Regions from separate parts of the Homo sapiens genome. Here region 2 is linked to region 1. The links come from fine-mapping of genetic effects on gene expression. A gene starts in region 1. The other region holds a variant in brackets. All regions are shown on one strand. Distances are between the middles of the regions. Region 1 holds the start of CES1 (carboxylesterase 1). Region 2 overlaps CES5A (carboxylesterase 5A).

Region 1 (5,000 bases):
AGCAATGGGTGGTGGCATTACATGTGGCCTGTTTTCTTGGTGATTTCCACCTTTTCAGCACTGTATGGGATTTCCGGTCTTCACCTGAAATCCTCCCCCCCATCTTAATTATTTTAAAATTTTAAATAAAAAAAGAAAAAATATGTAGAAATATGATGATGTCTAAAAGGTATTTTGAAAGACTTGGAGACCAGGCACAGTGGATCACCTGTAATCCCAGCACTTTGGGAGGCCAAGGCAGGCAGATCATTTGAGGTCAGGAGTTCAAGACCAGCCTGGCCAACATGGTGAAACCCCCTCTCTACTGAAAATAGAAAAATTAGCTGGGTGTGGTAGCATGTGCCTGTAATCCTGGCTCCTCCAGAGAGAGAGAAGAAGGAAAGAAGGAAAGGAAAGATGGAAGGATGGAAGGAAGGAAGGAAAGAAGGAAGGAAGGAAAGAAGGAAGGAAGGAAGGAAGGAAGGAAGGAAGGAAGGAAGGAAGGAAGGCAGGCAGGCAGGCAGGCAGGCAGGCAAGTGGGAGTGAGGGAGGGAGGGAAAGAAAAGAAAGGAAAAGAAAAGACTTGGTCCCTGACCAGAGGTGGGGGAAATGGAAGGGAAAGAAGACCAAAGAGCTGGCTTGTAATGCTGGATCCCTGTTTACACAGGCTCGGTGGAGATGTGAGTGGGATATCCAGGCAAGATGATGCCACAGGATGAGCGCACTTCAAAGCTGGAAGGAAGCCTGGTGAGGGAGCAGGGCAGAATCTTCTCCTGGACTGTGAGGGTACATACGGTGGATGTGTATGGCTTCATTGAAGATGCCAGTGTGAGAGGGAAGAGAAAAAAAAACAAAGGTCAAACACAGGGACCACTACGGCCAAGACCAAAGATCCATCAGAATAGGGGAGAGAGAACGTTCCCATGTCTTTGAAGCCCAGGGAGCAAGAGGGCGAGGAACCAGCTAAGAGTGCTGAGGACTTCAGGGAGGTGGAGGAGAGTCAAGTCAGAGAAGAAACCACTGGGCTGGTCATGCTCAGCTCAGGGATTCCCTTCAACAGGATGAGGTGGATGGCAGCCAGATTGCCAAGGGTGAAAAAGTGGGTGAATGGGGGGAGGCAGAAACAAGTGTGAGAACAAGACCAGTTGCTGCTGATGTTATATGAAGCACGAACATGGTGGGCACCTACTATGTGCCAGGCATGCATTCCAGTTTTTTAAATTAATCTTCAAATAAGCCTTGCTGGGTAGGCATCAACATGCCCATTTTACAGAGGAGGAAACTGAGGAAGTGGAGGCAGCCTGTATGGTCTTCCTAAGGAAGGAAATGGATGGCATTGCCAGGAGTAACCAGAGGTAAAGGAACATTCAGTTCCAAATAGGCTTCCTCTCTTCTCTGCCCTTCCCCACAGTTCCAGAGCTCTCGCAGTGTCAGGCTGCCAGAAGGAAGACAGGATGCAGACGGGGCTGGGCTGTCAGGATTCAGGACCCAGAGACAGACCTAGGCGTGATTTTCGGGTTGACCCTGGGCAAGTACATTTCCCTGTGTGAGTCTCAGTTTCTCTGTCTATAAAATGGCATGGGGGTATTTCGAGGCCCCTCGCTGCACCCCTCTATGTACCATGTGTTTTGCTTTCTGTATTCTGATGCTCTGGCATCTGAGGCCTTGTTGACCTTGGAGAAACTCCCTCCCAGGGTCCAGCCACCCCAGAGCCCACACCCCAACTGCCTCTTTGATCGGGTTGCCATGCCCTGGCCACTACCCACCTGCCCTAATCATGCCAGGGCTAGGTACAAAACAATTAGGAACAGCCCCTGTGCCCCAGAGCCCCTGAAGTATCCCAACTTGCCAGTCCTCAGCCTGCCTGCCCTGCCTTTCCTCTTCTATCCTTGGAAGCCACAGTAAAAGCCCCTTGGCCTCAGATCCGCCCTGTCCCCTCCCCAGGCTCTGCTGCTTCCCCTTGTGCCCCGCGCACTGGTGTCCCCCTCCTGTTGAGAACATGAGTAAGAAACTGTCTTTTTAATGGCAAGAGGTCCTGATATAGTGGCCTGACCACAGCTCAAATTTTCTATTCATACACTACGTTTTTAAACAGCGCCTTTATTTATCCATCCCTTTTTCGTGCTTTCTACATACCAGGCGCTGCCAAGAGTGCTTTAGAAACAGCCACCCATTTCCTCCTCACCAAAGCCCAGTGAGGTAGGCAGCACTGCCACCTCTGTTTCAGAGAGGGGGTAACCCAAGCACGGAATAGCGCAGTCCCTTGCCTAAGGACACACAGCGAGGAAGCGCCCAGCGGGGACTCGAACCCACGCACTCTGGCTCCAGAGTCGATGCTCTTAATATTATGTTGAGCCGCTCTCCGTGATCCAGCCGTAAGGGGACTAATTAAGGGACAGCAAACTGAGCTGCCTAAATTTCTCGTGTGTGCGGCCTGAGGTGGGCCGGCTGTCGGCCTGCATTTGGGCGAGCAGTACAGGGCGATCTCAGGATGTTCACCCTCCCTGCGTCTCCGCGCGGGCCAGGCTGGCCGGGCTCAGCTGCTCCAAGTCCAAGTCCTAATATGGAAGTCGTGCCCCGCCGCAGAGCCGGACCTGTTGTGTCTTTGCCTTTCTACGCATCTGCGCCCACCTCGGCCCAGAACAAGGATTTCAAAAAGTGCCCCGCATTTTGATTTCAGAAGGACTCACCCCAAGCCGCGGAAGCAGAGAGAGTGGCCAGGATAAAGGCACGGAGCCACATCGTGGAAGGGCGACAGTTCTCGGGGCCTGCGAGGTCTCTGTGCAGTTCAGAGGGACTGTGCTGTCCAGCCCTGGAGCCCAGCCCCGCCCAGAGTTACCGCCCTGCGCTGCCAATTGCCTAATCCTCTAATTGGGAGAGATCAGAAAAGCCCTCCCTTTCCTCAGATCTCCCTGGGCTTCTAGTGGGGCCTCAGGCCACGCCCACCCACAGTTTACCCTCTTTCATCAAACCAGTCTGGACTCTACTGTCAGATTACAGAGAGCTGTAAACTTGCCCAACTACTTGTTACATAAGGGTTCACCCTTGCAGGACTCTAACCTCAGTGCACTGTGACGGCCCCCAAGGGCCCACACCAGCAGGCAGATGCTTTTAGGCAAAGGGAAGCTTTGATCTGAGGTCCTCAGAAACAACTGGAAAATGTTAGAGCCACTCACACCTCACAGCTCAGCTGGGTAAGTTAGGACATATCTCAGCTCCCAGGGCTTGTGTTTTCATAGCTTTCCAGGCTCTCAAGCTTGGAAGCGATCTTAAATTTCATCGAGTCCCCTTTCTGAGGCCTGAATTAGCTTCACAATATCCTGCCAACTGGTCCAGCCTCCTGTCACACACCATCGGTGTCAGAGAACTCACTACTTTCCAAAGCAGGGATTTTTGGACAGAATGTAAAAATGAACTCCGTCCCCCCATAGTCCCTGGCTGTTATCATCCATCCATCCAAGTACCCATCCATTTTGTGAACATTTACCAAAATGCTTGGCACCTGGCCATGTATAATGGATACAAAGACCAATTCAAGACATGGTTCAGCTTCTCAAGGGGCTCACCATTGTAGACAAGACAGATGGGGTGGAGGAGCAGTAGGGGTGATGTCAAGGCAATGTGAAATCACCAAATTAAGGGGATACAGAGTGCTCTGGGCACACCTGGAAAACTGTCATTTACAAGCTGCTGGGGACACAAGGAAGTCACTCAAAGCCTCTTTCATGGGATTATTAAATGTCCAACAATAGGGAATTCACTAAACACACTGTGGTACCGCTGGCTAAGGAAATACGATGTATTCACTCAAAATAGTGATGTGCACAGCTATTTATTAACAATGAAGACAGGATGCGTTGTGAAAGGAGAAAATAATAGGTTATAAACTGTTGTGCGGTGTAGGCAGTTCCTCAAAAAGTTCAACACAGAGTTTCCATATGACCCAGCAATTCCCCTCCTAGGTGTCTACCGAAGAGAACTGAAAGCATGTCCACACAAAAGCTTGTACACAAAGAGCAGTGTCATTCATCCTAGTCAAAAAGTGGGCACAACCCGCATGTCCATGACCTGATGAATGTGTAAATGAAGTGTGGTGTATGCGTGCAGAGGCATATCATCCAGCCATAAGAAGAACATGCTACAACGTGGATGAAGCTGGAAAACATCATGGTAAAGGAAAGAAGCCAGCCACAAAAGGCCACATGTCGTATGATGCTTTTTATATGTAATTTCCAAAATAGTCAAATCCATGGAGACAGAAAGTGTTTGACAGGGTCTGGGGAAGGGGAAAGAGACGGGGATGAGGAGTGACTGCTAATGGGCATGAGTTTTATCTTGGGGGTGGTAAAAATGTCCTGGGATTAAATAGTGATGATGTTAGTGCAACTTTGGGAATATACTAAACACCACTAGATTGTACACTTTAAAAAGGTAAACTTTATGACATGTGACTTATATTTCAATAAAATAATGAAATATTTTTGAAAATCTAGATAGGTATAATATGGTCCCGTTTTGGTAGTAACATATGTCTTTATTTGCATAGGAAAATACTGGAAGTCTATATATCTAATTAGAATTACAACAGCCATTTCCTGGCTGTAATCTTGTCAGTGTTTCACTTATTTGCATTTTCCACTTTTATTCCTTCATACATTCATTGACAAATATTTACTGAGAGCTTACTGTGTGGCAAACACTATGCCGAGAGTTTTGTATGCAGGATCTCAGTTCTCAAAATAACCCCGTGAGATTAATGCTGTCTCACGATCTTAAATTGATTTCTGTTGTTTAAGCCACCCAGTCTGTGATATTTTCTTCTGGCAGCCTAAGTAGACTAATACATAGGCTCAACTCAATTCCGTTATTTATTCCCAAAAGAAACTAAGGCCCAGAGATGAGGAGGGATTGCCTAAGGTCACACAGCAACTCAATGGCAAAGTCAGAACCAGAACTTGAGGCTTCTGCCTTCCAGCACAGGGTGGCTGGCAGCCATTTCTCTTGCTTTTATACATCAGGAA
Region 2 (5,000 bases), 28 kb after region 1:
CAACAGTATTAGGAATTTGAAGTCTCCACTCCTCTGAGGACAGATGAAAAGTTTATTTCCAATGAAGAGAGTCTTCCTATGCCACGGAATCAAAAAATCATGGGTCTTTCCCAGCACCTGGGCCTCAGCTCAACAATCACTCCCTAGAAGAGCGTTTCCTGACCACCTGTTATCCTCCCTAAAGATACCTTCTCTCCTCACTTGTGTCCTTCATATATCTATCACTCTCTGAAATCATCTTCTCAATCTCGTGTCTTATCTGTCTCTCCCCACCAGAGTGTAAGCTCCCAGAAAGCTCATATGCTCAGTTTTTGTAAGCCTCTAATAAATGCTCAGTACATACTTGTTGAAAAAATAAAATGATTTAACAATTTTGCAGCTTATGCAACCTTAGCATTCAGGGATGTCAAAATGCCAGAACCAAGGCTGGATGTGAAAAATTTGAAGGACTGAAGTTTTTCAAACCTATCTGAATGTCAGCTCTGAAGTGGTAACTGCATTTTTTGGAAACAATCATTTATAATACTGTTTGAACAAAGACCAAATGGACCGATCCCCTCTTTCCTTTTTATACAGTTGTTTCTTCCGCCCTAAACCTCATTACATGAGAAGCAAGGCAGACACTTGCTGTGACTGTCCCGGTCCTCACTTGCCCTCTTTCAGAGAGAGTAAAGGTGATCACTGTGTGCTTGGCTGGTGGGCTCCAGCACTTACAATACCTGATGTCTTCTGTGGAAATGCCCAGCTGTTGAAGCCAAAGCTGCATCACGGTTTGAGGGAGTGGCAGTATGGACAGCCAGAATTCTTACCATAGGCAGCAGGAAGCCACACTCGTGGTTATTGACTCCGATGATGGAAGGAATTGCTTTAAATGCTTTCTGAGACAATAGATCTAGAGGCTCATTAGGAAAGAAAGCACCATCAACCACTCGAGTGAAAGACTTTGTTTTCTGTAATAAGGAAGAAAAAAAAATCATCAGCTATCATCAGCTATTTCTGTTCACAAAATCTGCTGTCCCAAATCCTGGCCAAGAAAAGCCAACCCAGTCTAGCACTGGCTTAAATGCACTTAAAAAGTAAAAACAAACACTATGGGCCCAGCTCAATATATCAGTCCCTGGAAGCTCTGCCATGTACTTGGGTGAGGGGGCTAAACTTGTCTGTGCCTTATTTTCTCATCTGCTAAATGGGAATAATAATAATATCTACCAAGAAAAACAGTGGCCTGTTATATGGTTTGGCTGTGTCCCCACCCAAATCTCAAATTATAGCTCCCATAATTCCCACATGTTGTGGCAGGGACCTGGTGAGAGGTAATTGAATCATGGGGGCAGGTCTTTCCCATGCTATTTGCATGATAGTGAATAAATCTCATGAGATCTGATGGTTTTATAAAGGGGAGCTCCCCTGAACAAGCTTTTTTTTTGCCCACCACCATGTAAGATGTGCCTTTGCTCTTCCTTCACCCTCTACCATGATTGTGAGACCTCCCCAGCCATGTGGAACTGTGAGTTTATTAAACCTCTTTCCTTTATAAATTACCCAGTCTCAGGTATGTCTTTATTAGCAGCATGAGAAGAGACTAATATAGCCTAGCCCAGAGATTCTCAAAGTGTGGTTCCTAGACCAGCAGCATCAGCATCATCTGGGAACTTGTTATAAATGCACATTCCAGGCCCACTTCAGGCTCCTCAATAAGAAACTCTGGGGTTGGGGTGTATAGCCCAGGAACCTTCTTGTAGCTGGTCCTCCAGGTGATCCTGATGCATGTTTAAGTTTGAGAACCACTGGCCAAATGCAAAGGGAAAAATGGTGGTAGATGAAGTGGTCAGGACTGTAGGGGTTGTAGGAGACTGTAGGTGTCTCCCTGAGACACAGTGCCTTGGACATGCCTGGATATTTTTTGGGTCTCAGAAAGCAACACTCAGCCCTAGTCATGGTTTCTTTAGGTTTCTGTTTTGAGATTTGGGTAGAAAGGAGCACATGGAAGAGTTCGACACATCAGGTCCAGGACTTATTATCCATTTCACTGAGTCTAGCATGGCTCAGAGTGGACATTCAGTACACACCACATAACTAGCAAATATTGAAATCTGAAAGATAATGATCTTGTCCATTCAAAGACTGTCATCAAAGGCTCTCAAGATTGGAAGGGACATAAAAGATCACCCGGTCCAATTAACTGTCACTGATTGAAAGTTTGTCAGCAGTCAGCTAGATTTTGCTTGAATACCTGGAGAGGTGGGCATCTCACTACCTTCTAAAGGAGCCCAGTCCTTTTCCAGACAACTGAGGTCTTGGAAGGTTTTCAGTTACACAAAACTAAAATGACTTCCTAATAGAACTTCCAGCTCCTGATTTTGACTTCAGCTTCTGGAAGCATGCATAACAAGTGTGGTCCTTCTCTCCAGTGAGATGCTTTCAGGGACTTAGAG[A/G]CAAGCCTTGTACTTTGCTGAATCTTCTCCAGGCTAAGTTGAACCCCTGCCCCAACAATTTTCTTAAATTACCTACAAGGGTTCTATATCCCTACTTATTTTTTTACAGCTGTTACCAAGTACCTCAATCCTCCTCTTTTCTATGTTCCAAATTCAAATAAATAACAGAGGGGTAGGATTTGTTCATCTCTCCGTTCGAAGGGCAAGCCTGCCCCCAAAACTGCCCCCTCTGTCCTCACCTGGCTGAGGGTCAGCAGCTCCTTGGAGGGTTTTGTCCTCAGGCACCTCAGCAGGGCCTCAGAGTCTGACGCATTGTTACCACAGAAATGTGCAACCACCTGCAGCTATTTTGTAGAGAAGGACCGGGTTAGAGCATGATATTGAAAGCATCTAGGAAAATGAAAGCTTGAAAATGCCCTCCAATCAGCCACAGGCTGGCCCTCCATATATGAGTCCATCCTGCTAACACTGCCTAGACCCACACCCCTATAATTGAAGGTGCACATGGTGGACAGTTTCCCACTGCATCACCCTCAGTCTCTTGCCTGGCTCTCCTTGTCATCTTTAGTAAACACCACAGCTGGAGATGGGAGTTTGTCAGTCTGTGGCTGTGGAATGGAATCAAGATTCCTGGTCACAAAGAGATCAGTCCTGTGAGCTTGGCTGCATTGGTATTTTGCCCCTCTGGAGTCTAGAAGCCCAACCTTGAGGTGCTGAATGAAGACAAACACCAAGAGTGAGGAGCAGCTTTGGAAGCTCCTTCATTGTCAGTACAGGCAGGACTCCAGATCAGATTCTCAGCTTGTCAGCCCTGCCCAAGCCCCAGGCCCACTCACAGCCTGGAATGTCCTACCTGTCTTTTTCCCTGCCTCTATACCAATCCTTTTCATTCTTTAAGGCCCAACTCCTTCCCTCCACGATGTCCTTTCAGGGCATTGCAGCCCCCAGAAACCCCTTCCTCATCCAATCTCCTATAAGCTCGATGTTCCCCACCTTCCATGCCTGGCCCATTGCTGAACATCTGCTTTCCTTGTCACTGAACCTCCATATTTGTAGAACTCACTCCCTGAAAGTGGTGGTTCTTAATCTTCTGGGAGTCATGGATACTCTGAGAATCCAGTCAAAGTTACAGACCCTCTCCCTGGGAAAACGTGCAAGCATGTGGAGTCTGGTACAGTTGTGGAACCGCTTCCCAAACCTATCCATGGATTGCAGGATTTAATCCTATCCATGGATAGGTGATAAAAAGATTATATTGCCCTCAAATTTAGGATGTGCTTTCTCCACTGATAAATCCCAAAGTTCTAACAGAGCAGGGAAAATAGTGGGCACTCAGTGATGTGTGTCAAATGAATAAATATATGCCCAAACTGAAAATAGCTTTATGGAGAATGTTACCAAAATCAATATTTCTGTGTATTGAGGGAATTTTTTTAAATTGCATAACTCTATGTTTCTGCTCTTGGTATATACTGTTATTTTCTGTAAGATGTTTAAGAAAATTTACCACAAAAATGATTTATACTCAAGAGATGGCTGCACAGCCCAGTGCTTAATTAATATGCATTGAATGAAACAGCTCATTCATTAACTCATTCATCCGGAACACTTATGGCTGCCTGATATATACCAGGTATTATGCTGGGGGCCTGAAGGACAGAGAGATCCTGGTCTCTAGGGCATCACTATCTAGTAGATAATTAAGACAAGAGACAGATGACAAATATCGTGGGATAGATGCCCCTTATAATCCCATGCCAGACAACGTGAATCAGTCACAGCATTATTTCCCACTGAGCTGGAAACAGCCTCTGAATCTTTCTTAACATAATGCCCTGGGTATTCATTCCCAGTAGAGTAGCGTAGGCACAGAAGAACTGTATAGAATACAGGGGACTGACTTATCTATCACAAGCAAAGAATAACGGGTAAGACATAAGAACCATAACGCACATACACACACACTTGTGCACACCAGTGGTGTGGCATTGTGTAGCTAGACCCATTTCCTGTTGAACCAGACCTTTCACGGAGGAACAAGGTTCACCTTGGGCCAGCATGAGGTGCCTTGGGCATGGTCACTAAGGAAAGCCAAACACATGGTGAGAAGGTGCCTGACCACATTCTCTGCTAACTGAGGAGAGGAAGGTGGCAAGGTGTTAACAGTATACGTACGTCCTCACTCTTCTCATAATCATGGGCCTCCAGGTAAGGGATGATGGCCACCCCACTCTCCATGATGGCTTTGTGGAATAAGCCTTTGGCCATGGGAGACAGTATCTGGAGAGAGAACACAGAAGACCCAGGAAAGGTTACTCCCCACCAACACACATACCATTCATCCCTCTTCAAAGAAACCTTCCCAGGAAGCCTCCTTAAAAGCTCTAAGCTTAGAGGGGAAAAAAGCCCTGGTTTAGGGGTTAAAGGACTAGCTGTGAAGGTTTGGGCAAGTTACTCAACCTCTCTGAGCCCCTGGTTCTTCATGGACTTTGATGTCAAATGTTCAGGCATGTGATTTCTAGCTCCTTCACTTTCTACCTAGGTAACCTCGGACAAGTTGCTTAA

The links. PIP is the estimated chance that this variant, and not a neighbour inherited with it, causes the effect. A credible set is the group of variants that fine-mapping cannot tell apart.
Region 2: its variant is the best candidate, but not a certain one, in a credible set for the expression of CES1 in whole blood (TOPMed, PIP 0.52).

Annotation. Positions count from the first base shown.
Region 1 is chr16:55,830,335-55,835,334 of GRCh38, forward strand. CES1 (carboxylesterase 1) reads right to left here and starts at 2,762. Exons shown (of 14, transcript NM_001025195.2): 1 at 2,670-2,762. The coding sequence starts at 2,721.
Region 2 is chr16:55,858,738-55,863,737 of GRCh38, forward strand. It overlaps CES5A (carboxylesterase 5A), which reads right to left. Exons shown (of 13, transcript NM_001143685.2): 6 at 4,611-4,715; 7 at 2,675-2,779; 8 at 810-950. Among named protein-coding and RNA genes, the nearest start is that of CES5A, 14 kb to the right of the region's middle. The variant A/G (reference allele first, on the strand shown) is at 2,436.